4 separate regions of the Homo sapiens genome follow, and regions 1, 2 and 4 are each reported to be linked to region 3. The links are microRNA targets in miRTarBase. Many come from high-throughput screens and were not tested one by one. Region 3 holds a microRNA gene; each other region holds the end of a gene's coding sequence.
The links. The annotated mature microRNA hsa-miR-615-3p reads UCCGAGCCUGGGUCUCCCUCUU and lies in region 3 at 5,642-5,663, shown strand. An mRNA with a match to its seed (bases 2 to 7 or 8) in the 3' UTR can be bound and repressed. Matches are read on the target gene's strand: a 7mer-m8 pairs with bases 2 to 8, a 7mer-A1 pairs with bases 2 to 7 and ends in A, and an 8mer does both.

Region 1: miRTarBase lists RNF185 as a target of hsa-miR-615-3p. Seed matches in the 3' UTR shown: 7mer-m8 at 4,721-4,727.
Region 2: the mRNA of TM9SF1 is a reported target of hsa-miR-615-3p. The part of its 3' UTR that is shown has no 7-base or 8-base seed match.
Region 4: the mRNA of KDELR1 is a reported target of hsa-miR-615-3p. The part of its 3' UTR that is shown has no 7-base or 8-base seed match.

What each region holds. Positions count from the first base shown.
Region 1 is chr22:31,203,885-31,211,475 of GRCh38, reverse strand. It overlaps RNF185 (ring finger protein 185), which reads right to left. Exons shown (of 7, transcript NM_152267.4): 7 at 4,457-6,987. The coding sequence ends at 6,890. Among named protein-coding and RNA genes, the nearest start is that of LIMK2, 4.6 kb to the left of the region's middle.
Region 2 is chr14:24,182,654-24,190,244 of GRCh38, reverse strand. It overlaps TM9SF1 (transmembrane 9 superfamily member 1), which reads left to right. Exons shown (of 6, transcript NM_006405.7): 6 at 437-1,096. The coding sequence ends at 830. It overlaps IPO4 (importin 4), which reads left to right and starts at 1,429. Exons shown (of 30, transcript NM_024658.4): 1 at 1,429-1,526; 2 at 1,607-1,693; 3 at 1,822-1,901; 4 at 1,988-2,029; 5 at 2,449-2,578; 6 at 2,666-2,845; 7 at 3,095-3,160; 8 at 3,266-3,367; 9 at 3,454-3,537; 10 at 3,794-3,958; 11 at 4,063-4,116; 12 at 4,275-4,384; 13 at 4,678-4,786; 14 at 4,933-5,062; 10 more. The coding sequence starts at 1,458. RefSeq lists silencers at 1,858-1,977, 2,223-2,433.
Region 3 is chr12:54,028,369-54,035,959 of GRCh38, forward strand. MIR615 (microRNA 615) reads left to right here and starts at 5,582; the gene lies at 5,582-5,677. HOXC6 (homeobox C6) reads left to right here and starts at 72. Exons shown (of 2, transcript NM_004503.4): 1 at 72-553; 2 at 1,287-2,455. The coding sequence starts at 154. The coding sequence ends at 1,594. HOXC5 (homeobox C5) reads left to right here and starts at 4,682. Exons shown (of 2, transcript NM_018953.4): 1 at 4,682-5,208; 2 at 5,910-6,993. The coding sequence starts at 4,755. The coding sequence ends at 6,124. It also overlaps a transcript of HOXC4 not described here. RefSeq lists enhancers at 4,197-4,491, 4,486-5,637 and a silencer at 5,721-5,780.
Region 4 is chr19:48,377,360-48,384,950 of GRCh38, forward strand. It overlaps KDELR1 (KDEL endoplasmic reticulum protein retention receptor 1), which reads right to left. Exons shown (of 5, transcript NM_006801.3): 4 at 6,871-7,123; 5 at 5,216-5,968. The coding sequence ends at 5,934. Among named protein-coding and RNA genes, the nearest start is that of KDELR1, 10 kb to the right of the region's middle.

The DNA.
Region 1 (7,591 bases), not on the chromosome of region 3:
CTGGCCACTAGATTTGCCCTGTGGGCTGCCAGTTTACAATCTTCTATGAGGAGGAGGGATTACAGGACTAAGAGTTAGGACAGCTGACTGGGTTATGGCAGCTGCTAGCTGGCTGAGTAGCTTTGAGAACCACTTCCGCTCATTAGGTTTGGAAGGAGATTGGGGTCCTCTGTGTGATTAAGATATTAATACATCATCAGCCAGGCCAGCTGGTCCCTGATGACCCACCCTCCCATCAGATTCTCTCACGCTGGGTCTTTCACAATTGTCATTTCCTTACATCAGATTTAGATCACAGGAAACATGTCCAAATGACCAGAAAGAGGATGGAGCCCAGGGAAATGGATTCTGTCCCCTCCACCCCCACCCCTGACCAAAGACAAAGTTCAACCCAGCTGCCTCTGGTCCCAGCAGTTGGGTAAGCAAAGGCAAAGGCAAAGACAAAGGCGAGCACAATTCTCTTCCTTCCTGCTCTAATTCAAACCGGATGCCGGTCAGATTTTTCTCTTCTGGGTGTGGCAGGTGGCTCACGATGTCCTGAGTGTGCACAAAGTGCTGGGGAGGAGGGCTCTGTCCCATTTCCGTTAATTCCTGGGAACTCTTTTCAGTACTCAGTTTTGTAGTTTCTGAGGAAATCATTATAGTAAACACAAGATTGTGTATTGAATTAAAGTGACAGGAATCCAGAGACTCTCCTGACAAGCTGCCTCATGGCTAGCAAACAGGGGACAGGGACTTTCCCCATCCTTCCTACAGAAAGATGTAACACTGTATTTTCCCAGGCAACAAAGCACTGGCATCCTGGGAACCAAAACCTCCTGGGTGTCTTCCCTCTCCCTCCGTTCCACACCAAGGCACCCAGGTCTATCTCTTCTCCCTCCTCATTCTCTCTCACATTCCACTTCCTCCTACCTCCAGCCTCATGGTCTTCACCAGCAGGGAGCTGGGGAATAGCCAAGTCCCCCAAGTTCCTCCCAGGGAAGTTCAGGCGACTCTGAGAAACACAAGTTGAAAATGTAATGGAAGGGAATAGCTTTCTATAGAAATGCTATAGCCAAGAGATATATTTTTAATATGGACCCAAAGAACATTCCAGAAATCACTTGTGAACTCAAGGGGGACTTCTGGAGGGTAGAGAAAGCCTGGGCAGGGAGTAGACCAACTGAGTTTCAATAGCACCCAGGTTACCTGTCCACAGTTTGTTTCACTGGCCATAGCTTGGTCAGTCCCTAGGGCCAGATCCTGCCAGCCGCCTCACAGTCAACTCTCTGAGCCTAGGATCCTGAAACCTGGACCTTGAAAAACAACTCAAGGTTCTGCCCTCTTGAAGGTACTGGTCCACTGGTACCCAACCAGACTTGCCCAGTGTCACTTCCACTTGCTTCAAACTGAGCCAGTCTCTGCCCTCCCTGAATCATCCTACCCAAAACTGACTGTGTTAATCTTCCAAAAGTATGTTTCTGGACCTGTCATCTCTCTGTTCAAAACCCTTCAACAGCACCCCACTGCCTACAAAATAAAAGCCAAACCAGTCCTCATGAGCTGACTACATCTCACCCTGCGGACTTGTCTCCCTATTCCCTTCACTCCAGGACTCTGCTTTTTCCTGAGCACATCCTGCCTTGCGCCACCTGCCATTCCTACAACAACCAGCTCTCCAGGTTCTCTGTAATTTTGTGCCCCACTCTGCCCAGAGTGCAGTCTTGTTTCTCAACTCTAAATGATATAGTGGCATCTGTAACATCACAAAGTAGGACTACCAGACATTAAGTGCCTCCAGGTAAGACGCACCAAGTATATACTATCACCTATGACGTAGTCTTACAAAACAAAAATAATAAGCTTGAATCTGGTCAAGCTTCTAGATCTAACAACCAACTTACAGGAAATACATGGAGAAGAGGAGCTTAATAACATTTCCATGATGCAAATAGCAAAAATGATGCTGTGGGAAATGCAACAGGACAAATAACCTAGTTTCTTTAACAGATAAACTGCAGAGTAGAAAAAATTTCATAGACAGGCCAGGCAAGGTGGCTCACCCCTGTAATCCTAGCACTTTGGGAGGCTGAGGCGGGTGGATCATGAGGTCAGGAGCTTGAGACCATCCTGGCTGACATGGTGAAACCCCGTCTGTACTAAAAATACAAAAAAAATTAGCCGGGCGTGGTGGCGGGCACCTGTAGTCTCAGCTACTTGGGAGGCTGAGGCAGGAGAATTGTGTGAACCCAGGAGGTGGAGCTTGCAGTTAGCCGAGATCCCGCCACTGCACTTCAGCCTGGGCAACAGAGCGAGACTCTGTCACACAAACACACACACAAAAAAACAAAAAATTAGCCAGGCATGATGGCGGGCGCCTGTAGTCCCAGCTACCAAGGAGGCTGAGGCATGAGAATCACTTGAACCCGGGAGACGGGGGCTGTAGTGAGCTGGGATCGCATCACTGCACTCCAGTCTGGGCGGCAAGTGAAACTCTGTCTCAAAAAAAAAAAAAAAAAAAATTCAGAGACAAATAATAGCAATGTATGAAACTGATTTGGATCTCAATTGAAACTACACAAGTTATGAGACAACTAGGGAAATCTGAACAATGTGATTGGATATGATGATTTTAAGAAATTTTTTAAAGGTATTTTGCTTTTTTTTTTTTTTTGAGATGGAGTCTTGCTCTGTCGCCCCGACTGGAGTGCACTGGTGCGATCTCGGCTCACTGCAACCTCTGCCTCCCGGGTTCAAGCGATTCTCCTGCCTCAGTCTCCCGAGTTGCTGAGACTACAGGCGCCTACCGCTACGCCTGGCTAATTTTTTGTATTTTAGTAGAGACGGGGTTTCACTATGTTGCCCAGGTTGGTCTCAAACTCCTGAGCTCTGGCAATCCGCCCGCCTCACCCTCCCAAAGTGCTAGGATCACAGGTGTGTGCCATCGTGCCCGGCATATTTTGCTTGTTTTTAAAATACTTGAGATGCATATCGAAATACTTAATAAATGACATGACTGGGGTTTGTTTCCGAATAGTTCAGACAGTGGGAGAGGAACAGCGTGCGGGAGGTATAGATGCAACAAGACTGATCTGAGTTGATAGTTACTGGAGTTGGGTTATGGCTACATGGAGGCTTTATTGTCCTGTTCTACTACTGTTTTTTTTTTTTTTTCCCCATCGAAAACAAAAACCTAAGGCCGGGCATGGTGGCTTAAACCTGTAATTCCAACACTTTGGGAGGCTGAGGTGGGAGAACCTACTGAGACCGGGAGTTCCAGGCTGCAGTAAGCTGTGATCACACCACTGCACTCTAGCCAGGGCACCCGAGTAAGACCCTGTTTCTAAAAGGGTCTGTTGCCCTGGCTGGAATGCACTAGCATGATCACAACTCACTGCAGCCTTGACCTCCCAGGCTCAGGTGATCTTCCCACCTCAGCCTCCCTCCCGGGTAGCTGGGACCACAAGCATGCACCACTGTGCCTGGCTAATATTTTTTATTTTTGTAGAGATGGAGTCTCCCTGTGTTGCCCAGGCTGGTCTCAAACTCTTGGCCTCAAGCGATCCTCCCACCTCAGCCTCACAAAGTGCTGGGGTTTGTAGGTGTAAGCCACCATGCCTGGCCTAAAATTAAAATCTTTCAAAAAAAAAAAAAAAACCTGGTCTTTTCTCATTGGGCTTATGAGCTCCTGAAGTTCCCTCACCTTTGCATTCCCCACTGTATCTTGGTACTATTCAATTTGATAACTGTTAGATCAAAATCTAAGAGGAAGAAAAAAAGCTCTTTTCAGAGGAATTACTTGTAGCTCTGGCATGTTGGGAAGGCTGAGGCTGGGCCAGATTTGTAACCTCAGCAACATCTTCCATCTCACACTACACCCTGCTACTAAGGAACCTTAGGGAGGGACACACCTTCTGCTCGAGAGAGAGGACTTGGCTGACAGCCCACCTGCCCTGTTACTAAACAGATGGAGAGACGCTGACAGTGAGTAACCTGATTGTTCTAAAGGCTCTGATAAGTGACAAGCTAAGCTCTATTGTGGCAGCTTGTCACTTACGAAGCTCAGGAATGCCATGTACTTGTCAGGACTGGGGCTGCCTGTCAGACAGGTTTTATATTGGGCAAGGCTGTGTATGAAGCCAGGCCTCCAGCCTACATTTATCATCTCTAATTATCAATAGTCGTTTAAAGACTTTCTTTCCTTTTTTTTAAGAGACAGTCTCGCTTTGTCACCCAGGCTGGAGTTCAGTGGCATGATCATAGCTCAATGCAGCCTTGAAACTCAGGGCTCAAGCAATCCTCTTGCCTCAGCCTCCAGAGTAACTAGGACTACAGGCATAAGTCATGCCCAGCTTCTTTGAAGACTTTCGTTCTCAGTGTGACATTACGGAGGATGCACAGGAGCCTCCAGGAGGGCATACCAGTGTGACTACTCCCCACCCACTCGCCCTCCACAACACAGACAAGAAGTCCAAGCTCATAGTAATGTAAAACCATTTGTTTAATTCTAAATCAAATCACTTTCACAACAGTGAAAATTAGTGACTGGTTAAGGTGTGCCACTGTACATATCATCATTTTCTGACTGGGGTCAGGACCTGGTCCTAGTCCACAAGGGTGGCAGGAGGAGGGTGGAGGCTAAGAACACAGAAAACACACAAAAGAAAGGAAAGCTGCCTTGGCAGAAGGATGAGGTGGTGAGCTTGCCGAGGGATGGTGGGAAGGGGGCTCCCTGTTGGGGCCGAGCCAGGAGTCCCAAGTCAGCTCTCCTGCCTTACTTAGCTCCTGGCAGAGGGTGAGTGGGGACCTACGAGGTTCAAAATCAAATGGCATTTGGCCAGCCTGGCTTTACTAACAGGTTCCCAGAGTGCCTCTGTTGGCTGAGCTCTCCTGGGCTCACTCCATTTCATTGAAGAGTCCAAATGATTCATTTTCCTACCCACAACTTTTCATTATTCTTCTGGAAACCCATTTCTGTTGAGTCCATCTGACTTAAGTCCTCTCTCCCTCCACTAGTTGGGGCCACTGCACTGAGGGGGGTCCCACCAATTCTCTCTAGAGAAGAGACACTCCAGAGGCCCCTGCAACTTTGCGGATTTCCAGAAGGTGATAAAAAGAGCACTCTTGAGTGGGTGCCCAGGAATGTTTAAAATCTATCAGGCACACTATAAAGCTGGTGGTTTCTTCCTACCAAGTGGATTCGGCATATGAACCACCTACTCAATACTTTATATTTTGTCTGTTTAAACACTGAACTCTGGTGTTGACAGGTACAAAGGAGAAGAGATGGGGACTGTGAAGAGGGGAGGGCTTCCCTCATCTTCCTCAAGATCTTTGTTTCCATAAACTATGCAGTCATAATTGAGAAAAAGCAATAGATGGGGCTTCCTACCATTTGTTGGTTATTGCTGGGGTTAGCCAGGAGCAGTGTGGATGGCAAAGTAGGAGAGAGGCCCAGAGGAAAGCCCATCTCCCTCCAGCTTTGGGGTCTCCAGAAAGAGGCTGGATTTCTGGGATGAAGCCTAGAAGGCAGAGCAAGAACTGTTCCACCAGGTGAACAGTCCTACCTGCTTGGTACCATAGTCCCTCAATAAGATTCAGAGGAAGAAGCTTATGAAACTGAAAATCAAATCAAGGTATTGGGAAGAATAATTTCCCCTCGATTCCACAGGAGGGAAGACCACACAATATCATTGTGCTGGGGCTCCCCAAGGCCCTGCCACCTGGCTTTACAAATCATCAGGGGTTGCCTGCTTGGCAGTCACATGCTTCCCTGGTTTTAGCACACATACAAGGAGTTTTCAGGGAACTCTATCAAGCCATACCAAAATCAGGGTCACATGTGGGTTTCCCCTTTCCTTGCCTCTTCATAAAAGACAACTTGGCTTCTGAGGATGGTGGTCTTTTGCATGCAGTTGGGCTGACCTGACAAAGCCCCCAGTTTCCTGTGGCAGGTTCTGGGAGAGGATGCATTCAAGCTTCTGCAGCCTAGGGGACAGGGCTGCTTGTTCAGTTATTACTGCCTCGGAGCTCCAAATCCCACCAAAGTCCTGACTCCAGGTCTTTCCTAATGCACAGTAGTCAGTCTCAGCTTCGGCAGTATTCTCGGCTGTATGTTCTCTGGCAGAGAGAGGCAGATGAACATAGTTTTAGGGAGAAAGCTGATGGGAAACCTGTGAGTTAAGCCACATGTCTCACCAGGAATAATTTATGCCAGGAAACCAGGAAGTCATTCAAGTTGTTCTCTGAGGCCAAAGACACTGAGCACAGCCCAGAGCCAATAAAAGATCTTTGAGTCTCTGGTGAATTCACGAAGTGACCCCAGCTTTAGCTACTGCAATTATGATTTTTATGGGACAGCAATTTCTTGCATCTCTACAGAGGAAGAAGAGGGGGAGTGGGAGGGGAAGGAAAGAGAACAGAGCGGCACTGGGATTTGAAAGGGGAACCTCTCTATCTGAGGAGCCCCCACTGGCTTCAGAAGCAACTTACCAAGGGGTATTTAAAGACATGAAAATTTCCAGAAATACCATTTGGTGCATCCCTTTGTTTCTGTAATATTAAACTCAGGTGAAATTATACTCTGACAGTTTCTCTCTTTCTGCCTCTTCCCTCTGCAGAGTCAGGACCTGCAGAACTGGCTGAAACAAGATTTCATGGTGTCACCCATGAGAGATGACTCAATGCCAAGGCCTGAAGTTATAGAGTGTTTACAGCGGTGGCGATATTCAGGGGTCATCGCCAACTGGTCTCGAGTTCCAAAGCTCTGATGAAGAAACAAGACTCCTTGATGTGTTACTGATCCCACTGATTCCAGGAGTCAAGATTAGCCAGGAAGCCAAACACCAGGAGTTGGGGTGGCACGTCACCAGTCCAGAGCCCTGCCACGGATGTAGGCAGGAGCCCAGCATTAGGCAATCAGGAGCCAGAACATGATCACCAGGGCCACAAATAGGAAGAGGCGTGACAGGAACTGCTCGTCCACATACTGGGGTGTCCCAGGGACAGCTGGAGAGACAGAAAGGAGAAAACAGGCTATTAGAACACTGCAGCTATGCACACTGCCCACTCAGGCCAGAAGTTGACAGCATCAATCTTTATCTCTTTACAACATCAGAATCCTACACACAAAAAGATTTCTTTTTTTTTTTTTTGAAATGTAGTCTCGCTCTGTTGCCCAGGCTAGAGTGCAGTGGCACGATCTCAGCTCACTGCAACCTCCGCTTCCCAGGTTCAAGCGATTCTCCTGCCTCAGCCTCCTAAGTAGCTGGGATTACAGGTGTGCGCCACCAAGCCTGGCTAATTTTTGTATTTTTAGTAGAGACGGGGTTTCACCATGTTGGTCAGGCTGGTCTCGAACTCCTGACCTTGTGATCCGCCTGCCTCAGCCTCCAAAAGTGCTGGGATTACAGGCATGAGCCACCATGCCTGGCCTTTTTTTTTTTTTTTCTTTTTGAGGTGGAGTTTTGCTCTTGTTGCCCAGGCTGGAGTGCAATGGCACGATCTCGGCTCACTGCAACCTCCACCTCCTAGGTTCAAGCGATTCTGCTGCCTCAGCCTCCTGAGTAGCTGGGATTACAGGCACGCACCACCACACCCGGCTAATTTTTTT
Region 2 (7,591 bases), not on the chromosome of region 3:
CCTCCTATCCCCAAGCAGGACTGAGCTTGAATGATATGAGAGTGTCTCACTTATAAAGCTCTCCGGAGACATTTCCCCCTTCACCTTCCTGGTTTCTGACTTTAATGCCTATGGACATCATGTGGGGTTTAAAGCCCATTTGATGACCCATTTACTTTGTTGAATACCTCTTTGTGCCAGGCAAAGAATAAAGTGGAATAAAATGGACAAGATCCCTGCCCTCAATCTATTAGGGAAGATATTCTTGAAGTGAGAGCGGCTAATCATAGGCAAAAAATCCCCATGAAGCCAGGAGATCTGGGGCAGAGAGTGGAGTGAACTCACTTTTCACAATGACCCAGCAACATGGGAGAGGGTGGGGGCTGGATTTCAGCCCAGCCACTGTGCTGATGGTGCACAGCCCTTTAATGCTGTGTATCATCTCTTTTCTTCACAGTGCCATCTCTGTGGAGCTGTACTACATCTTTGCCACAGTATGGGGTCGGGAGCAGTACACTTTGTACGGCATCCTCTTCTTTGTCTTCGCCATCCTGCTGAGTGTGGGGGCTTGCATCTCCATTGCACTCACCTACTTCCAGTTGTCTGGGGAGGATTACCGCTGGTGGTGGCGATCTGTGCTGAGTGTTGGCTCCACCGGCCTCTTCATCTTCCTCTACTCAGTTTTCTATTATGCCCGGCGCTCCAACATGTCTGGGGCAGTACAGACAGTAGAGTTCTTCGGCTACTCCTTACTCACTGGTTATGTCTTCTTCCTCATGCTGGGCACCATCTCCTTTTTTTCTTCCCTAAAGTTCATCCGGTATATCTATGTTAACCTCAAGATGGACTGAGTTCTGTATGGCAGAACTATTGCTGTTCTCTCCCTTTCTTCATGCCCTGTTGAACTCTCCTACCAGCTTCTCTTCTGATTGACTGAATTGTGTGATGGCATTGTTGCCTTCCCTTTTGCCCTTTGGGCATTCCTTCCCCAGAGAGGGCCTGGAAATTATAAATCTCTATCACATAAGGATTATATATTTGAACTTTTTAAGTTGCCTTTAGTTTTGGTCCTGATTTTTCTTTTTACAATTACCAAAATAAAATTTATTAAGAAAAAGGCTCATGCAGTTGGAGGTTTTGGTCTGGATATAGGAACTCGAGCCCTGCTGTTAAGGGCACGGTCCTTTATAAAGCCGAGCTGGCCACTGAATGCCCGAAGCTCGAGTTCTCCAACCCAGCTTGGGAACTCCCGGCGTGGGGAACCTACATTGCCAGAGTCGGGTTTCCGCGATTCAGCCGGTGCTCAGCCTAACGGAAGTGGAGGAGCCGGACCTCTTTGTGGGAAGCGAATTGAATCACCTTGGCAACCCGCGGGGCGTGCAGCAACGCCCTTTCCTCCGGAAGTGGGTGTCAGAACCTCCACGTGCTGTCCCTCCCCCTCCCCTTTTCGGCCCAGTAGCGGCGGCTCAGTTGCTGCCATGGAGTCAGCCGGGCTAGAGCAGCTCCTACGGGAGCTGCTGCTACCGGACACCGAGCGCATCCGTCGGGTACGGAGCAGGCGTAACCGGGCCAGGGCGAGCGGGAGGTTGCGGGAAAGGCCCAACTCTCACCCCTAGCTTCCCCCCAGGCCACGGAACAGCTCCAGATCGTTCTTCGGGCCCCCGCCGCTTTGCCGGCTCTCTGCGACCTGCTAGCCTCGGCGGCCGACCCCCAGGTGAGACCCCTGACTCTCCCCTCCGAGCTTCCCACTGTACGCCACCGGTCAAGCCCCAGTATTCGCCCACTGCGGTCCGCTCAGCACCTTCCTGCCCGGACCCCCACGTGCTTGCTTCCTCGTCCTAGATCCGCCAGTTTGCGGCCGTGCTGACCCGCAGACGACTGAACACCCGCTGGCGACGGCTGGCGGCGGAGCAACGGGAGAGGTGGGCTGGGCCTGGGGTGGGGCGGGGCCAGGCGGAGACTTTTCTTGGGCAGGCTGGGTACCAAACACCTGCCACCTGTGTTCCAGCCTCAAGTCCCTGATCCTGACGGCCCTGCAGAGAGAAACAGAGTAAGTACCTACCCACTTCTCTCGGGATCTTGACGACTTTGTCTAGGTTTCTGCCTTCCTTTTCGGCTCCAGGCTGGGACTTGTGGGGCAGGGACTTCAGTTCTAGACGCAAGGTGGAGTGAGGATTTTAAGGCTGTTTTGAAGACTAAAGTTCTTGAGGAAGGGTGATGATGATCTGCCAAACCCAAGTCAGAAGAATAAGACTGAAATTCAGGCTAAGTTAGACTGAACTTACCAGATTACATGCCCACAGTGCTGTTGGGCTCCCTCTGAGCTGCTGTCTCATGTGTCCCAACTTGGCAAAGACCCTGTGCCCACACCTCCTGAAAGTTTCTGTCCTGGCTGCCCCATTGAGCCTGGCCACTGTGTGCAGAGGAAGGTATTGAAGGGTGATTGGAGGAGATCTCTCCTGTTTGCAGGCACTGTGTGAGCCTCAGCCTGGCCCAGCTCTCAGCCACCATTTTTCGAAAGGAAGGCTTGGAGGCCTGGCCACAGCTTTTGCAGCTGCTTCAGCACAGTACCCACAGCCCCCACAGCCCAGAGAGAGAGGTACCATCACATGGTTGGCAGGAGGGAGGGCCTGAGAGGCTGGATAGACCTTGTAAGCTTGCTCTCCCATCCTCTATTCTTGGACAGATGGGGCTTTTGCTGCTAAGTGTGGTGGTGACCTCCCGGCCCGAGGCCTTCCAACCCCACCACCGGGAGCTTCTTCGGCTTCTGAATGAGACTCTTGGTGAGGTGGGCTCTCCTGGGCTGCTCTTCTACTCCCTGCGCACTCTGACCACCATGGCTCCCTACCTCAGCACTGAAGATGTGGTGAGATGTGGGCCCTCGTTATCTTTGACTCCCTTTCCTCATGCCTTCATGTCCTCACCCGTAAAAGTTACAAAGCTGCTTTGGATTCTTTACCTGCCTGTGGCCCTTCCTGACAATTGAGAGGGGATGCTGTAGGTGGGCCTGGCTGTTATGCCTGGGCTCCTCCTCGCAATTCAGGCTGTGAGGAAGCTGCCAGCTGCTGGGGTGTGAGATTGGGCTGCATCATGCTCTCTGTGATGTGTCCCTCAGCCTCTCGCTCGGATGTTGGTGCCCAAGCTGATCATGGCCATGCAGACTCTGATCCCCATAGATGAGGTGAGGACAGGTGGGCAGGAGCTCTGTTGGAAGGAGAGTGCAGAAGTGTCCAGTTTGGCCCACTGAAGAAGAGCATGGTAACCTTGTGCCTTGTTTGTCTGTCAGGCAAAGGCCTGTGAGGCCCTTGAGGCTTTGGATGAACTGTTGGAGTCAGAGGTGCCGGTCATCACCCCCTACCTCTCTGAAGTCCTCACATTCTGCCTGGAGGTGAGCCTGGAGTGGACATGGCCCCTGCTACATGCTCTGCTGGGACTCTCCTTCCCTGTCGCTGATTTTTATTATTCTGTGGACAGGTAGCTAGAAATGTGGCCCTGGGCAATGCGATACGCATACGTATTCTCTGCTGCCTCACTTTCTTGGTCAAAGTCAAGAGCAAGGTAAGTGAGTGCCCATTGACACACATCACCCCACCCCCATCTCCACCCTTAGTCTCACTCCTGGGGCTTTCGGTCCATCTCAGGGTATCTAAAGTACTGTGGGGGTTCAAGCCTTGGCCTGGCCTCACCCCAGCTCCTGCCTGGGAGGTTGGGAATTTTCTGTCAGACCCCTTATGGCCTGGAAGACTGGAATTTTTAATGTGAGCCCATCCTGGGAGCAGATTCTTAGGGACACTGTTCCACCTTCTCTGTCAAGGCCTTACTGAAGAATCGTCTCCTGCCACCCTTGCTGCACACCCTTTTCCCCATTGTGGCTGCTGAGCCCCCACCAGGCCAGTTGGATCCCGAGGACCAGGATTCAGAAGAGGAAGAGTTGGAGATTGAGCTGATGGGGGAGACTCCCAAGCATTTCGCTGTACAAGTGAGATGTGGGGCAGGACAGAGGGGGAAGGTGTTAGGTGGCTGTGGGACGTTGGGGAGGCAGAGATGGAGTCAAGCAAAGTAAGTCTCCCCATCCCATCTCAGGTTGTGGACATGCTGGCACTACACCTGCCCCCCGAGAAGCTCTGTCCCCAGCTGGTAAGTGTGGCTCTGTCCTTCTGGTGTCCCTACCTCCAAGTGTGCCTAGTCCCCCTGAGGCCAACGACGTTTAGACCCTGGGAGGTGTGAAGGCCTATTACCACAGGAATGGGCAGGCTCTTGCTGGGGTTTCAGAAGCGTGCCACATGCTTCCCTAGATGCCCATGTTGGAAGAGGCTTTGCGGAGCGAGAGCCCATACCAGCGCAAAGCTGGACTCCTGGTGCTGGCCGTGCTGTCTGACGGAGCTGGCGACCACATCAGGCAGAGGTATGTATTCCCCTGTCCCAGGGTGAGGGTTGCCCACAGGGAGGACCATGGCTGTCCTGGTTTACGCTTGTTGTTCAAGCTTATTTATCAACAGCGTTTCCCCCCATTATCAAAAGTGTCCTGGCTTGGAAGATAAATGACATGGCTTACCAGCTATAGGGACCAGGGGCTGCTGCCCACCCTCTGGTGACAGGAAAAGCCTTGGTTTTTCCAGGGAAAATGAAGAGAACAGGTCAGCCTAGGGCTCTCAGGTGTAGCTTCTCAGCCTATGTCCTCTTGTTTGCCCCATCCAGACTGCTGCCCCCACTGCTGCAGATTGTGTGCAAGGGCCTGGAGGACCCCTCGCAAGTTGTACGCAATGCTGCGCTGTTTGCCCTGGGCCAGTTCTCAGAAAACCTACAGGTGAACCAGGCTGAATGTGGGAGCCACCACTTGAATGTCCCCTTCCCCTCATCTTTCATCTCTTCAAGCATCCCTGCTGCCATCAGCACTCTTGTGTGTGCCCGGCAGGTGAACCTGACTCAGGCCCTGCTTGCTCCCTCCCCCAGCCCCATATCAGCAGCTATTCAAGGGAGGTAATGCCACTGCTCCTCGCCTACTTGAAGTCGGTGCCTCTTGGACACACACACCACCTAGCCAAGGCCTGCTATGCCCTGGAGAATTTTGTGGAGAACCTAGGTAGTGATGGCAGTGGGGAGCTTGGGGAAGGGGGATGAGGCGGCGGCTTTGGCTGAATGTACAGGATGTGCATCTCCCTGCATTGCTGCCTGTGGTAGGGGAAAGGGTGTGATGGTGCCAAAAAAAGGTTTCCGCCTGGAGGGAGGTGGGCGTGCAGGTAGCAGACCTGGGTTGGTTGGTAGAGGAGCATCCTTTCCCACAGGGCCCAAGGTGCAGCCCTACCTTCCGGAGCTTATGGAATGCATGCTGCAGCTTCTGAGGAACCCCAGCAGTCCCCGGGCCAAGGAGCTGGCTGTGAGCGCCCTGGGAGCCATTGGTGAGGAGAGAGGCAGGAGGCAGGGATGTGGGGTTCACCCAAAGGCCCTGTGGCTGGTGGTCCCTGCCCTCTCCAGCTCTGATTCTGTCCTTCCATCCTGCAGCTACGGCTGCCCAGGCCTCGCTGCTGCCCTACTTCCCTGCCATCATGGAGCACCTGCGGGAATTCCTGTTAACAGGCCGTGAGGACCTTCAGCCTGTGCAGATCCAGAGCCTGGGTGAGTGAGAGGTTCCCAGGTGGGGCTCCCAGTGCCAGCAAAGGGCTGGTGCTCACCTGGTGTTGACAGATTGCCCCCACAGGAGCACGGATGTCTTCCTTCTCATCAAAGGGGTGTGCTTCATGCTGTACCAAGGGGTGGGGCGGGATTTCTGAATCCCTCCCAGCCACCACCTTTGGTCCCGTAGCCCACCTCCACCTCCTGGTGCTAATGGAGCCCTTGCCCCCACAGAGACACTGGGGGTGCTGGCACGAGCAGTGGGGGAGCCCATGAGGCCGCTGGCTGAGGAATGCTGCCAGCTGGGTCTGGGCCTCTGCGACCAGGTAGACGACCCTGACTTGCGGCGCTGCACGTGAGTGACCCCTCACCCTGCCTCTGCCCTTGTCCCCTCCCCTCCTGTCTTCCCACTGGACCCACTGGAATCCCCACCCCAGACTCCAGTCGTCTGGTTTGGACCATAGCCAGGTGTTCCCGGGCTCCCCCATCCTGCCTGGTGGTAGCAGGCAGGACCTTACAGCTTCTTCTGCCTGCTTTGACCAGGTACAGCCTATTTGCAGCCTTATCGGGTCTGATGGGTGAGGGCCTGGCGCCCCACTTGGAACAGATCACCACGCTCATGCTGCTGTCACTGCGTTCCACCGAGGGCATTGTGGTGAGCAAAGGGTGGGTGGGCTGGGCCAGGCCTGCCCTGCAATGGGATTTATCTCCTGGGCCCAGCTGAGCCAAAGTCCTTGCCGTGCCTCCGCTCCAGCCTCAGTATGACGGGAGCAGCTCCTTCCTTCTGTTTGACGATGAGAGTGATGGGGAAGAAGAGGAGGAGCTCATGGATGAGGATGTGGAAGAAGAGGATGACTCAGAGATCTCAGGGTGCGGAGGGGTGCTCTTCTGATCAGGAATCTAGACTTTGGCTTTAGACAAGGGCCTAGTGCTGGATCTGCTCCTCTTGGTGCCTGATCACCACTGCCTCCCCTTCTTACTCTAGGTACAGCGTGGAGAATGCCTTCTTCGATGAGAAGGAAGACACCTGTGCTGCCGTGGGGGAGATCTCTGTGAACACCAGGTGAGCATTCGCCCTTCCCTGGCACTGAAAACCCTGCCTGGGGGCCCCTTACCCACGGCTGTGTCTCTCTCTGTAGTGTGGCCTTCCTTCCATACATGGAAAGTGTCTTTGAAGAAGTATTTAAACTGCTGGAGGTGAGCGGGCCGGCGGGTGGAGTGGGTGGGGTTCTCAGGCTGGGGGCCCTGTGTTCACGGTGCACATAGCAGACATATCCCGCCCCTCCTCATCCTGCAGTGCCCTCACCTGAATGTGCGGAAGGCAGCCCATGAGGCTCTGGGTCAGTTTTGCTGTGCACTGCACAAGGCCTGTCAAAGCTGCCCCTCGGAACCCAACACTGCTGGTGAGGAGAGGCTGGGCCAGGCTGGGGGTTCTTGGGGAGGGGCAGGGCCTGACTGGTGCTTCAGCCAATAATGTCCCCAGCTTTGCAGGCTGCCCTGGCCCGAGTCGTGCCATCCTACATGCAGGCAGTGAACAGGGAGCGGGAACGCCAGGTGGTGATGGCCGTGCTGGAGGCCCTGACAGGGGTGCTCCGCAGCTGTGGGACCCTCACACTGAAGCCCCCTGGGCGCCTCGCTGAGCTCTGTGGCGTGCTCAAGGCTGTGCTGCAGAGGAAGGTGAGCAGGGCAGGTGGGCTTCGGGAAGGAGAGGTGCTGGGCCTCGGTTGGGGACTGGCTACAAGTCCACCCCCTACCCCCATGAAAAGAGAAGGGGCGTGAAAGCTCCGCTAAGTTGAGCTACTTCTTGTAGACAGCCTGTCAGGATACTGACGAGGAGGAGGAAGAGGAAGATGATGATCAGGTGAGAGCCAGGGATAAAAACGGGGACCAGGCGGTCCAGGCAGTCTCCACAGGGACAGGGGTGGACAGTGTATTTGGGCTTGGCCTGGGGCAGCCAGGGCCACTAAAAGAGACTGGTAATGGCCAGAGGGATACAACC
Region 3 (7,591 bases):
TGGCTTGCGATTGGCTGGGAGGGGGTCAGCTGACTTTGTCATTTTGTCTGTCCTGGATTGGAGCCGTCCCTATAACCATCTAGTTCCGAGTACAAACTGGAGACAGAAATAAATATTAAAGAAATCATAGACCGACCAGGTAAAGGCAAAGGGATGAATTCCTACTTCACTAACCCTTCCTTATCCTGCCACCTCGCCGGGGGCCAGGACGTCCTCCCCAACGTCGCCCTCAATTCCACCGCCTATGATCCAGTGAGGCATTTCTCGACCTATGGAGCGGCCGTTGCCCAGAACCGGATCTACTCGACTCCCTTTTATTCGCCACAGGAGAATGTCGTGTTCAGTTCCAGCCGGGGGCCGTATGACTATGGATCTAATTCCTTTTACCAGGAGAAAGACATGCTCTCAAACTGCAGACAAAACACCTTAGGACATAACACACAGACCTCAATCGCTCAGGATTTTAGTTCTGAGCAGGGCAGGACTGCGCCCCAGGACCAGAAAGCCAGTATCCAGATTTACCCCTGGATGCAGCGAATGAATTCGCACAGTGGTGAGTTTTACAGCTCCGAGATATAAATTAAATAAACTGAACTGGCTTTATGACCGGCTTCCCTAGAAGAACGGGCGGAGAGAGTTTTTTATGGCCCCATAAAAACAATCACGCTCGTCTCCTCACCGAGACAGGGCCCCCTCTTCTGCCCCCTCAGCTCGCCTCTCGCTCGCTTGCAGGGGCCTGGCCCCCTTGGCCCCTGACGGATTGGAGGGCCCCAAGGCGGGCTGAGGGGGCAGGAACAGGGCAGGGGATGAGGGGAGGGAGCAGAAGATAGGGGAGCCCCCCAAAGTGGAGTCAGTCTGAGGAGAAGGGAGGGGGAGAGGAGAGGCAGATAAGTGGGGAGAAGTTTCCAAGGAACTAGGATGCTTGGGGAGATGGGGGAGCCCAGTCCTTGAGAAAGGGGGCCCTCATCCCCATTATCTGGGATTTTTCAAAAATCTGCTTTTAGACTTGCAGCTTTCTGTTTGCCTTTTGCCCCGCCCCCCCGCCCCCCCCCCCACCACACACCTTTCTTTGGGACACACAGGTCCCACCTTATAGGAGGTCTGAAGTTGGGGTCCTCGCTGTACCCCCAGTGGGGGTGGGGCAAGGCAAAAGGGAGAAGGCTAGAGCCCTAAGGAGGCTGTGAGCTGCTGGCCAGGTTGGGAGGGTCAGGACTTTGCTAGGCGAAACAGTCTGCAGAGGACGCTTTGCTGATTGCTTTTAGTGTGTTTTGTGCCCGGATCTTTAGGGGTCGGCTACGGAGCGGACCGGAGGCGCGGCCGCCAGATCTACTCGCGGTACCAGACCCTGGAACTGGAGAAGGAATTTCACTTCAATCGCTACCTAACGCGGCGCCGGCGCATCGAGATCGCCAACGCGCTTTGCCTGACCGAGCGACAGATCAAAATCTGGTTCCAGAACCGCCGGATGAAGTGGAAAAAAGAATCTAATCTCACATCCACTCTCTCGGGGGGCGGCGGAGGGGCCACCGCCGACAGCCTGGGCGGAAAAGAGGAAAAGCGGGAAGAGACAGAAGAGGAGAAGCAGAAAGAGTGACCAGGACTGTCCCTGCCACCCCTCTCTCCCTTTCTCCCTCGCTCCCCACCAACTCTCCCCTAATCACACACTCTGTATTTATCACTGGCACAATTGATGTGTTTTGATTCCCTAAAACAAAATTAGGGAGTCAAACGTGGACCTGAAAGTCAGCTCTGGACCCCCTCCCTCACCGCACAACTCTCTTTCACCACGCGCCTCCTCCTCCTCGCTCCCTTGCTAGCTCGTTCTCGGCTTGTCTACAGGCCCTTTTCCCCGTCCAGGCCTTGGGGGCTCGGACCCTGAACTCAGACTCTACAGATTGCCCTCCAAGTGAGGACTTGGCTCCCCCACTCCTTCGACGCCCCCACCCCCGCCCCCCGTGCAGAGAGCCGGCTCCTGGGCCTGCTGGGGCCTCTGCTCCAGGGCCTCAGGGCCCGGCCTGGCAGCCGGGGAGGGCCGGAGGCCCAAGGAGGGCGCGCCTTGGCCCCACACCAACCCCCAGGGCCTCCCCGCAGTCCCTGCCTAGCCCCTCTGCCCCAGCAAATGCCCAGCCCAGGCAAATTGTATTTAAAGAATCCTGGGGGTCATTATGGCATTTTACAAACTGTGACCGTTTCTGTGTGAAGATTTTTAGCTGTATTTGTGGTCTCTGTATTTATATTTATGTTTAGCACCGTCAGTGTTCCTATCCAATTTCAAAAAAGGAAAAAAAAGAGGGAAAATTACAAAAAGAGAGAAAAAAAGTGAATGACGTTTGTTTAGCCAGTAGGAGAAAATAAATAAATAAATAAATCCCTTCGTGTTACCCTCCTGTATAAATCCAACCTCTGGGTCCGTTCTCGAATATTTAATAAAACTGATATTATTTTTAAAACTTTATACCGGGAATTCTGTTAATTCGCTCGCCCGCCGGCCTCAGGGTGAGAGCTGGAGCAGGCTCCAAGCGCTCCCGCGCCTGCCGGCCCCCTGCAAGCCCCCAGCCCTCTGCACTCGCCTTCCCCGGAGCCCAGGCGCCCGGCCCCGGCCTTCTGTTCGTTCTCGCGATCGCACTGAGGGGCTGGGAGGCCTCTCTGGGCTCCCTGCGCGGAGCAACACACACACCCTGCGGGAAAAAGCCGCGTAGGATTTTGTTGCGGGGGGAGCTGGGATCAGTCGGTTTGGGCACCAACCCCACGCAGGCCTTTCTTCCTGCCTGTGGCAGCCGGTGTCCTCGGCGTCCGAACCCTGAGGCGCCCCGAAAGACCAGTAAAGAAGCACTATCCAGGCACCAGGGTCTCCTCCACCCACTCCCGGGAGTTGGAGGCGGGGGGCGCCGTGAGAGCAAGCCCCAGGCCCGCGCCAAGCTGGCTGTTGCGAAACGTAGCGGAGGCGGAGAGCGGAGGGAAAGAGAAGACCGCGGGACTGGAGCCCTGTCGGCAGGGATTGAGCGATTCAAGGACATCTCGAGAGAGAAAGCCTGGAAACTGAGCTCTCGCCTGCTCTGGTACTCCTGACGTGGCCGGGACAAAATTCCTTCTTCATTACAGCTCCAGCCGGGCTGGTTCCTTACTTTTCTCTCCTCAAACGGGTGAAGAGGCGGGTGAGGAGCGCAGCCGGACCCTAACCATTTATCAACCCTGGCCTTCTCTCTCCAAGCCTGGCCAGAGAAACCTGAGTGGGCCTACAGGGAGAGGTGTTGAGGAGGGTCTCCGGAGGGAAAAAATCCGCCAGAGTTTTCCGGGCCCTTCAGATTCCCTCCAGCGCCCCCACCCTCGCCTCCAGTGCCTCCACCAGTGAGGAGGGGGCCTTCTCCTGGCGGGGCGGAGATTTCCTGGGAAGAAGCAGGCAGGGAAGTATGAGACTTGGGGCTACGGGGGAAGAGGATGGGGCCGAATGGCTGCAGATACCCTGCGAAGGCTACCCAGGCGCCTGCCCTGCCCACCCCCCAGGTCCGCCCCATTCCTCTTGGTAGCTCAGAAATTGCTCTCTTGTGAACCTTATGGATTCAGGTCCCTGGAAAGCCTAGCCCAGAGACCTTTTCCCCAAAGGGCACATAACGGGCCTTTTCCTCTGCCATGCTCACGTAATATTTGTGGAGGCTTCAATCTTGCTTCTCCATGTCCTCAATTAACATCTATTTTCTGTCTAAAACCTCTGGCATAGGTACCACATAAGGATCGCACACAGGGAAACAGAGCAGTCCTCTAGACCATTGTCTGGCTCTGTCCGTGTCCACACACACACTTGAAAATTGCCTTGTTGCCACTCTGGGGACCCTAGCATGGTGAGGTCTAGCCAACTCCACCTGGCTCCTCACCTCCAGATCCATCCCAAACAGCCTGCAACACCCTCAGCTTCATGACCCCCCTATCTTGTTCTGACCACTCAGGATCCCTCCTCCTGGGCGTCCTGTCTACCTCTTCAGAAGCTAATTCTACTTTCTCTTGCTGATAGGCACCTCTTCAGCAGTAGTGGAGCCTTAGGGCCTGAGAGGCAAGGGACTTCTACCTTTGGTTTAGGGAACCTAAGTTAAACCCCATTGGTTCTCCAGCCTGGGCATAGGCCACCTTACCTAACTTAATCCCCTTTCCTCAGCCATTTTTGAAGATTGGAAGACCCTGGAGGTTGGGAGAACGGGACTTTCATTACAAAAAGCACTCTGTGCGTTATAAGTGGGGCCTCGTCTTTTCCCAATTTTAAATAGAATTTAAAAGGCTAGCTCAGGGGTTGCCCCAACAACCAGCTTCTCCTTCACAGTGTAGGAAATCCAGCCACCGGAAAGCAAGCTGGCGCTCCAGGATGCAATTCCCCCACATAGGCACCAGGTGTCGCTGTGGGCTTGTTGTCCCGGCTACCCCCAATTCCAAGAACCTTTTTTTTTTTTTCCCTCCCCCTTCCCTCTTTCTCTCTCTCACTCCCTCTCCCCCTTGGTTGGGCTTTGCCAACATATCGAGATGCTTTTCGCCGGCTTCCATCACTAACCTCCCGGAGGTCATCAAGCCAAATTTATGAGTGGCCGCTCGAGTCACGTGACTCTATTTAAGGCTCCCTTATTTGGGAAGAGCGCATAGGATAAAGAAAGAGATATCTCCACCTATAAATTGTCCACTTTGGAGAACAAAAAACCCCTCAACTTCAAAGAGTCACAAATCACCCTTAATCAAAAAGGGTGCAGAAATTTTTTTGGGCCCTCCCCGCCATGAGCTCCTACGTAGCCAATTCATTCTATAAGCAGAGCCCCAATATCCCTGCCTATAACATGCAAACTTGTGGGAACTATGGATCGGCCTCAGAGGTGCAGGCATCCAGGTACTGCTACGGCGGATTGGACTTAAGCATCACTTTCCCACCGCCTGCGCCTTCCAACTCTCTCCACGGGGTAGACATGGCTGCCAACCCCCGGGCTCACCCCGACCGCCCCGCCTGCAGCGCCGCGGCCGCTCCGGGACACGCTCCGGGCAGAGACGAAGCGGCTCCTCTGAACCCCGGGATGTACAGTCAGAAGGCGGCTCGCCCGGCGCTGGAGGAGCGAGCTAAGAGCAGTGGGGAGATCAAAGAGGAGCAGGCGCAGACAGGGCAGCCCGCCGGACTGAGCCAGCCACCGGCCCCGCCACAGATTTACCCGTGGATGACCAAACTGCACATGAGCCACGGTAAACTTTAGGACTTCATTTTGCGCTCTCGGGTCCGCCTGGGTTTTATAGGCCATGCGGGGCAAATAAAGAAAAAAAACCTGCGGCCATAAATTTTACGATCCAGGCATCAATGGCTCGTAAAACTGTCCACTAAAAGGCTTAGAGGCTGTGTGCGCCCAAATTTACGACGACATAATTGGATCATAGGAACAAAACGTGTATAAAAGGCAATATTCAATTTTTGGGGGAGAGGGAGGGAGTTAAAAAAATAGAGGGATCTGAAGGGTGAGGAGCGCGGGGCTCCAGAGCGGGGATCCCCCCGCGGCTCCCTCCCTCCCTCCCCTGCGGAGCCGGCTCCGCCGGCGCTTGCGGCTCCGGAGGATTCCAGCGACTCGGGAGGGGCGGGAGGGGGGTCCCCGGTGCTCGGATCTCGAGGGTGCTTATTGTTCGGTCCGAGCCTGGGTCTCCCTCTTCCCCCCAACCCCCCCTCAGCCCCTCCGGCTGCAGAGTGAAGGCTGCGGTGGAAAGTTTCCTGCCTGGGCGGAGGCGCCTCTCCCGGGGCTGGGCTGGGCTGGCCCGCCTGCGGCCCGCGTGGCCTGTCTTGCGGCTCTCGCCTCCTCTCCCTCCGGCCGCGGGTGGGGGCCTGGGCTGGGGTGGGGACGGGGGAACGCTGCAAGCTATTCACCCCTTCCTGGCTTGGGGTGGGGTTTATGTTCCAGAGACGGACGGCAAGCGGTCCCGAACCAGTTACACGCGCTACCAGACTCTGGAACTCGAGAAAGAATTCCACTTTAACCGCTACCTCACTCGCCGCAGGCGCATAGAGATCGCCAACAACTTGTGTCTCAATGAGAGACAGATCAAGATCTGGTTCCAGAACCGCAGGATGAAGTGGAAGAAAGATTCCAAAATGAAAAGCAAAGAGGCTCTTTAGAGGCAGCGGGGGAGGCCCGCAGAGCGCGCCCCTAGCCGGTTCCTGTCCCTGCGCCTTTCCTTTTCGCCTTTCCTCTCTATATTTCGGGTCGGGGGCAGGTGCTGGAGCACTGGGCTCCCGGGCCCCACAGACAAAAGCGCTTTTCCTTGGCATTCCGCATCCCTACCGACCCAGGGTTCCCGCGGGGCTGTCGGCGCTGCCCCATCTCCCCTCAGCTCGGCTCAGCTCGGTACCCGGGGCCCAGGGCAAGCTCCGCAGGACTTCCCCGGAGGGCTGCGGCGTACAGGCTGGCGCAGAACGAACCTTGGCCTGGGCCGTATCTCCGGCTCCCAGCCTCAGCGCGGCCCTCCCGAGTTAAGGTGGGCCCGGCCCGCGCCACAGGACCCTCGCCGGACCCTCTAACCTCGCCCTCTCCTTTGTTCCCGGCTGGACGGGTTAGACAGCCAAAGGCTGGCGAGAGTCTGGCCCTAGACTCGGGGTGCTTCCTTGTAGCGACTAAACTAGATTTTCACTTATGAATGATTTGCATATGAAAGGAGAGCATCGGCCTAGGGCCCCCACAGTTGCTCTATGCTTTCCAAACCTTATCTCCACAACCTCTTCCCCCCAAAACCCGGGAACCTCCCCAGCCTGCGCCTGCTGCATGCCCTCTCAGGCCGGCAGCCCCAGCCTGCTAGCTAGCTCAACTAGTGGGGTTTCCTGGCACTGGACCCCAGCAAGTGGTCCTAGAGGCCCTTTGCTGTCCCATAGTCCCTGCCACGAATTTCTGTGCCCTCCTGACCCATTGCTGTTGTCCAACTATTTATTGACTCTGGGTCCTTCCTGAAACTATATTTTGTCATATCAAATAAAGAGAGAACAGGACTAAAGATGCAGTGGCTCCTGTCTGTTTGGGGCATGTATTGGGTAAAATTGTCTAAATGGGCTGTGAGATGTAGAAGGAGACCCACAAACTTTAAGCCACCCCTTTAAAAAATTTTCTAGCTTCTAGGGGCAGTGAGTAGAGGGAGGTGAAATTGAGCTCCTTTCCTGTTCCTTGGCTGCAACAAGAGCCTCTGGGGGAAGAGAAGGGCACCTAGGCCTCGAGTACTGGCTTTTCCCATGCTGTGGCTGTCCAAGGCCTTCACGCCTCTGCACTCCAGGAGGCCTCTGGACTGGCAGCAGCCCCCACTGTGTGCCAAAGCTGCGGTGCAGGAACCAGTGGCTCCACCGTGCTCAGCCTTAGGACCTTCTGGGCCTCTGAAGATCTTTCCTGGGCCTAGGTGGTCCCTGAGAGGCCTTGCTGGACATAGAGGGAGGGCTGAGCCCTCACTCTAGGGACCCATTTGGTCTCATAAGGGCCTCTAGAGGGAGGTGGTATTGCTTGGTAAGGGGGTGTTGGGAGAGTTGGAGGAGGTGTGCCTCAGTATCTAAGATACTGGGGAAGAGGGAGCAGGGAGGACAATCTGCAGTGTGTATCAGCCTGGC
Region 4 (7,591 bases), not on the chromosome of region 3:
AGGGCCACATCCAGGAGGGGCAGCCTTCACTCAGCGCACATTCAGTAACGGGGCCTGGAGTTTCTTTTTTTTTTCCGAGATGGCATCTCGTTTTGCAGCCCAGACTGGAGTGCAGTGGTACAATCATAGCTCTCTACAGCCTTGACCTCCTGGCATCAAGCAATCCTCCTGCCTCAAGCCCCAAAGTAGCTGGGACTACAGGTGTGTGCCACCACTCCCAGCTAATTTTTCAATTTTTTTGAAGAGATGGGATCTCACTATGTTGCCCAGGCTGGTCTTGAACTCCTGGGCTCAAGCAGTCCTCCTGCCTTGGCCTCCCAAAGTGCTGGGATTATAGGCATGAGCCACCACGCCTGGCCAGCCTGGGGTTTCTAGAACAGTGCTGTCCACTTGAAATCTGATGTGACACCCAAGGGGAGTTTAAAATAGTCTAGTGGCCACATTAAGAAAAGTAAAACAAGGTGGATGCGGTGGCTCATGCCTATAATCCCAGCACTTTGAGAGGCTGAGGTGGGCAGATCACTTGAGGAGGCCAGAAGTTCAAGACCAGCCTGACCAACATGGTGAAACCCCGTCTCTACTAAAAATACGAAAATTAGCCGGGTATGCCTGTAATCCCAGCCACTTGGGAGTCAGAGGCACGAGAATCACTTGAAACCAGGAAGTGGAGGTTGCGGTGAGCCAAGATTATGCCACTGCACTCCAGAATGAGACTCTGTCTCAAAAAAAAAAAAAAAAGTAAAATGAAACAAGTGAAATTAATTTTAATATTTTATTTATGTCAATATATCCAAAATATCATTTCAACATGTAATCAATATAAAAATTATTAGTGAGGCATTTTCCACTCTTTGGTACTAAGTTTTTGAAACCCATCGTGTATTTACACCAATAGCACGCCTCAGTTTGGACTCGCCAGGTTTCAGGGGCTTGACAGTCACACATAACCACTGGCTACCCTACCAGACAGTGCAGCTACAGAAACTCTGGTTTTTCTACGACAGTTTGGACATCCATTCTGTGGCAGGTTTTAAAATGTGAAATCAGGCCAGGTGCGGTGACTCACACCTAAAATCCCAGCACTTTGGGAGGCCCAACTGGGCGGATCACGAGGTCAGGAGTTCAACACCAGCCTGACCAACATGGTGAAACCCCGTCTCTGCTAAAAATACAAAAATTAGGCCGGGTGCAGTGGCTCACGCCAGTAATCCCAGCACTTTGGGAGGCCAAGGCAGGCAGATCACTTGAGGCCGGCAGTTCGAGACCAGCCTGACCAACATGGAGAAACCCCATCACTACTAAAAAATATAAAATTAGCTGGGCGTGGTGGCGCATGCCTCTAGTCCCAGCTACTTGGGAGGCTGAGGCAGGAGAATCACTTGAATCTGGGAGGCGGAGGTTGCGGTGAGCTGAGATCGTGCCATTGCACTCCAGCCTGGGCAACAAGAGTGAAACTCTGTCTCAGAAAAAAAAAAAAAAAAAACAAAAATACAAAGATTAGCCAGGTGTGGTGGCGTGCGCGTGTAGTCCCAGCTACTCAGGAGGCTGAGGCAGGAGCATCGCTTGAACCCAGGAGGTGGAGGTTGCAGTGATCCGAGGTGGTGCCACTGCACTTCAGCCTGGGTGACAAAGCAAGACTCCATCTCAAAAAAAAAAAGTGAAATCGGTGGGTAACAAATACAAAATAAACGTTGGGCAGTCCAAACGAAACACACCTGCCTGGGGCCATCGTGGCCTGCAGAGCACTAGTTCACAAACCGGACGAAAGGATATGAGATGTGGGGAATCAAATTTGGGTTCCATTAGTCCTTTTTTGGAGGCTTCCTGTGTGGCTGGCCCTGTACCTGGAGGTGTAGAAATAACTATGTGGTCCTGCTGGGTATAGAGAGAAAACAGCAGCAGTGCAGTGAGACAGGAAGTGTTCTGACATGGAAATGAGAGGACTCAGCACTAGACGTCCCTCTGGATAAGCATGGGTGTGTCACTTACTGTCTCTGGGCCCAAGTTGTATTGGCTATAAAACTAAATAATTAGACAGATTTTTTTTTTTTTTAAAGACAGGATCTCTGTTGCCCAGGCTGGAGTGCAGCAGAGTCATCATGGCTCACTGCAGCCTCAACTTCCTGGGCTCAAGCAATCTTCCCACCTCAGCCTCCTGAGTAGCTGGGACTATAGGTAAAGGCCACCATGTCCAGTTAGTTTTTTGTTTTTTATTTATTTTTTTTTTTGAGATGGAGTCTCACTCTGTCACCCAGGCTGGAGTGCAATGGCTCGGTCTCGGCTCACTGCAACCTCTGCCTCCCAGGTTCAAGTGATTCTCCTGCCTCAGCCTCCTGAATAGCTGGGACTACAGGCACATGCCACCACACCCAGCTAATTTTTGTATTGTATAGTAGAGACGGGGTTTCACCTTGTTACCCAGGATGGTCTCGATCTCCTGAACTCGTGATCCGCCAGCCTCGGCCTCCCAAAGTGCTGCGATTACAGGCATAAGCCACCGTGCCTGGCCTTTTTTTTTTTTTTTAAAGAGAGTGTCTCACTCTGTTGCCCAGTCTGGTCTTGAACTCCTGAGCCCAAACAATTCTCTCACCTCCACTTCCCAAAGTGCTGGGATTACAGGCGTGAGCCACTGCACCCAGCTAAAGAATTGAACCGGATTTAGATGGATGCTTTTCAGACTATTCAAAGAGATGCCGGCCGGGTGCGGTGGCTCACGACTATAATCCCAGCACTTTGGGAGGCCAAGGCGGGTGGAACACCTGAAGTCAGGAGTTCAAGACCAGCCTGGCCAACATGGTGAAACCCCATCTCTAAAAAATACAAAAACTAGGCTGGGCACAGTGGCTCACGCCTGTAATCCCAGCACTTTGGGAGGCCAAGGCAGGTGGATCATGAGGGCAGGAGTTCAAGACCAGCCTGGCCAAGATGGTGAAACCCCGTCTCTACTAAAAATACAAAAATTAGCCCGGTGTGGTGGTGGGCGCCTGTAATCCCAGCTACTTGAGAGGCTGAGGCAGAGAATTGCTTGAGCCCAGGAGGCGGAGGTTGCAATGAGCTGAGATTGCGCCACTGTACTCCAGCCTGGACCACGGAGCGAGACTCTGTCAAAAAAAAAAAAAAAGAGAGATGCCTTGGGGCTGGGCACGGTGGCTCACGCCTGAAATCCCAGCACTTTGCGGGGCTGAGGCAGGAGGATCACTTGAAGTCAGGAGTGTTTGAGACCAGCCTGGCCAACATGGTGAAATCCCATCTCTACCAAAAAATACAAAAATTAGGCCGGGCGCGGTGGCTCACACCTGTAATCCCAGCACTTTGGGGGGCTGAGGCAGGTGGATCACCTGAGGTTGGGAGTTCAAGACCAGCCTGGCCAACATAGTAAAACCCCGTCTCTAAAATACAAAAATTAGCTGGGCGTGGTGGCGGGCACCTGTAGTCCCAGCTACTTGGGAGGCTGAGGCAGGAGAATTGCTTGAACCCAGGAGGCGGAGGTTGCAGTGTGGTGAGATTGCACCACTGCACTCCAGCCTGGGCAATAGAGGGAGACTGTCTCAAAAAAAAAAAAAAAATTAGCCAGGTGTGATGGTACACGCCTGTAGTCCCAGCTATTCTGCAGGCTGAGGTAGGAAAATCACTTGAACCAAGGAGGCGGAAGTTGCAGTGAGAGAAGATCGCGCCACAGCATTCCAGCCTGGGAGAGTGAGACCTGTCTCCAAAAAAAAAAAAAAAAAAAAAAAGAGGTGCCTTGGGCTGAGCAGGCAGCAACACAACCCCCTTCCCCAGTCAACCCCAGCGAGCGAGCAGCCCCGCTCCTGTGTTTTCCATATCGGGCTTCCAGGCACAAATCTAAACAGAAGGTCCCTTGACTTAAGAGAAAGAAACAAAAAACCGGCTGAAAAACCACACAGCGTTGGTTAAACACACAAGCTCTGGCATCACGAAGTCCAGGTGCAAAGCCCACCTTTGCCACTCACCCCTCTGAACCTGTTTCCTCATCCACAAAGTGCCCCCTCTGTAGGGATGCTGTGAGGGTTGCAGGAGTTCATCTATGTAACACACAGTACCTGGCACATATCAAGTGCTCAGGAAACGCCAGCTCCCTGCCTCCTCAGGCTTCCAGAGCCAGCCTCCAGGGAAGCTGCAGACAGTTAGGAAGGTCTTAGAGGACATCTAGGAAGTTTGACCTAGTCAAGGGTCAAAAATCCAAAAGCCAACAACAGCCAGGCAGGTAACGTAAGTGAAGAAAATAGGCCAGGTGTGAGGCCAATCTGGAGAGAGACAAGGAAAATATTTCACTTTCCTCTTAACTTCGCAAACAAACAAAAATAACCACACGGCATCAGCCCAATAATAAATGTAACAAGCCTGCAGCCAAGTCCTGGGGACTGTGGTGAAAAGAGCTGCGTCCCATCCATTCAGATCCAGCCATCTGTTGCCACCCAGAAATGAGGACCCAGCATTGTTAGACTGATGGATTTTTTTTTTCAAGAGAAGCCAGAAATGTGAAAATCTGGTTTTTAAAGGCTAGCGACCCATTCTCTTTTTTTAAGGAAACAGAATGCCTCAACAAAAAATGTCAAGTGAGGGTAGGACGGGGGCTGCCCATGTGTGGTCCCTGACATACATGCTCTTTTTTTTTTTTTGAGATGGAGTCTCACTCTGTTGCCCAGGTTGGAGTACAGTGGTGTGATCTCGGCTCACTGAAATATTCGCCTCCTGGGTTCATGCAATTTTCCTGCCTCAGCCTCCTGAGTAGCTGGGACTACAGGGGCACACCACCACGCCCAGCTAATTTTTTTTTGTATTTTTAGTAGAGACGGGGTTTTGCCATGTTGGTCAGGCTGGTCTCAAACTCCTGACCTCAGGTGATCCGCCCGCCTCAGCCTCCCAAAGTGCTGGGATTACAGGCATGAGCCACCATGCCCAGCCAATTCTCCTGAAGGTCCTCTGCAACCCTGAGGGTTTGGAGAACCATCAGACAAGTTCTGTGCCAAGGTAAGAAGACTCTTCAAGATTCTCTCCAAAACCTCTTCCCAGCAGCACGGCGAGGAACTGCACAGCTGAGAGTCTTGGGAGACCCAGTTTCTCCTCTTCCTGCTCCTCCTAGGCCTCGTCGCCTACAGATAGTCAATAAGGCAAAAGCAGAAGCAGAAAGAGGGGCGGGGGCGGGACCCCATACACACCAGGGACAGAGTGGCAAGGAGCAGCAAAAGAAAGGTTTCATTTTCTTCTGTTTATTTCAAGAGAACAAAGATTCAACCATCAGTTCTGTACAAAAACATGGTGTGAGAGCCATGGGATCCTCGGGCCAGCCCCCTTCCCGCACTTGAGCCCCGGGCCCCCCTAATTTGCCAAAAAACCAGGAGAAGACCAAAAAATTCAAACTCTGGGGAAAAAAATTACTATGAAAAAAAATCAGGGGAGACCTTCCTGGGCCTCCCTTTCTCCCTATCCCCAATCTAGAAATTTAGTGGGGGTCGCGGTTCATGGCCATGGCAGGAGGTGGGGCAGATGGGTGTCGGCAGATTTAGTGTTTGGCAACCAGTGGGGCTGGGGGTGGGATCTGGGAGGGAGCCGAGGGGCCTGGGGAAGGGAAAAGATCTTGGACCCTGCCCCGGCCCATAGGACACTCAAAAACACTTTATAAAAATTGGGGCCACAGAGTAGAAGAAAAACGAGTCATCAGAATCAAAAACTAAAGAGTGGAAAGATTTTTTTTTCTTGTCTAAAAGGCAAAAAACTACAAACAGCCCAAGTCCTGAGCTCCCCAAGACCTGGATCCTCCACTGTCCCCCTGAAACCCGGCAGGAGGCGGGATGGGGAGCACAAGAGGTGGGTTCTTAAAAAAGTCACCCCTGGATGGGAAAGCTCTTCATCTTCTGCCGCCTTCCTCTGCCTCCCGCTGCTGCCGAGGAGAGAGATGGAGAGGACCGGGGCTATGCCGGCAAACTCAACTTCTTCCCCTTTAGGACTGTGAGGAGAGAAAACAGGGAGGGCATTACCGCTGGGGCCCCTGCAGGGAGGGGACAGCCTCCCACAGCCAGAGCAGGGCAGGCACGCTAGATGGGCAGATCCACAGGGAGGGAGGTCCCCCAGGACTCACAGATACATTCCTGGTTTCTTTCCTTCCTACCCTTTCTCACTACTGGCAATTTTCTTTCTTTCTTTTTTTGAGACAAGGTCCCACTCTGTAGCCCAGGCTGGAGTGCAGTGGCATAGTCACAGCTCCATGCAGCCTTGACCTCCTCAAGCAATTCTCCCACCTCAGCCTCCCAAGGAGCTGGGACCACAGGCGTGCACCACCATGCCCAGCTAATTTTTTTATTTTTTTATTTTTTATAGTGACAGGGTCTTGCTATGTTGCTCTGGAACTCCTAGGCTTAAGAAATCTCCCTGCCTCAGTCTCCCAAAGTGCTGGGATTACAGGTATGAGCCACCATGCCCAACTAATTCTTTCTTTACTTGTTCATTCACCATCTCCCCCACCAGAATAAAAGGGAAATGGAGGCCTTTGTCTATCTTTTCTCCTCCTAATGTATCCCCAGAGCCTAGCACCTGGCTGGGGACATAGAAAGTACTCAATACATTTGTTGCATGAATAAATGAATGAATTTCAGTGGGCTGAGTCCCTGCCCTGCCTGGCCTACGCTCCAAGTGACATGGGGGCTAAGGACAGAAACTCCTTAGCCCTTAGGGAGGCAGAGGCTAACGGTCTGAATTCCTAGGAGGATGGTAGGCCTGCCACCCCAGAAACCCGGCGAAGAAATGCTCCCTTCTTTGCATAATACAGGGGTAAGGAGACCCCAGTCCCCAGGGAGGGCAGGAGCTGCAGAAATAGGAGGTTCCCTTCCAGCCGTCCCACATTCCAGCTACCTTTGGTGATATAGAGGTAGAAGAAATCGCAGTAGAGGACTGTCTGGACCAGGCCTGCCACAATGGCGATGAGGTCGAAGAAGCCCTCGAAATGGTAGCGCCAGATCCAGTTGAAGAGATAGAGCGTGCGGTAAACGCCTAGCGCAAACAAGTAGTGGCTGGTGATGGTCTCCGCCTCGCCGGTCTTGCTCACCATGAACAGCTGCGGCAAGATGGCCACTGACTCCAGGTAGATGGAGAAGGTCCAGAGGATCTGCAGAGAGGCCGGGGACATGATGAGGTGGGAGGGGACAGGGCGGGAGAAAAGGCAGAGGACAACATTGCAGTTACAGGTGCCGCGAAGGTGGAGAGAAGGAAGGTGATCCAGGTGCTGCCAAGTGCCAGACACAGTTCTGCCCGAGTTACTGGTACCTCTGATTTAATCATCACCATGGCCCGGCGAGGAGATCCTATGATTAGCACACTTATTCTACAGATGAGGAAACTGACACCAGAGAAGGTAAGATACTCGCCCAAGACCATGTAGCCAGCAAGCAGCAGAGCAATGATTCGAACCAAGGATTCGCAGTCCGTTCTCATGAACACTTTGCAATTGCGCCTCTCTGAAAGGCAGGCTGGGTTGGAATCTTGCCTTGGAAATTTCCCTTCCTTTTTCTTTTTCTTTTTTTTTTTTTTGAGATGGAGTATCACTCTGTCACCCAGGCTGGAGTGCCATGGGGTG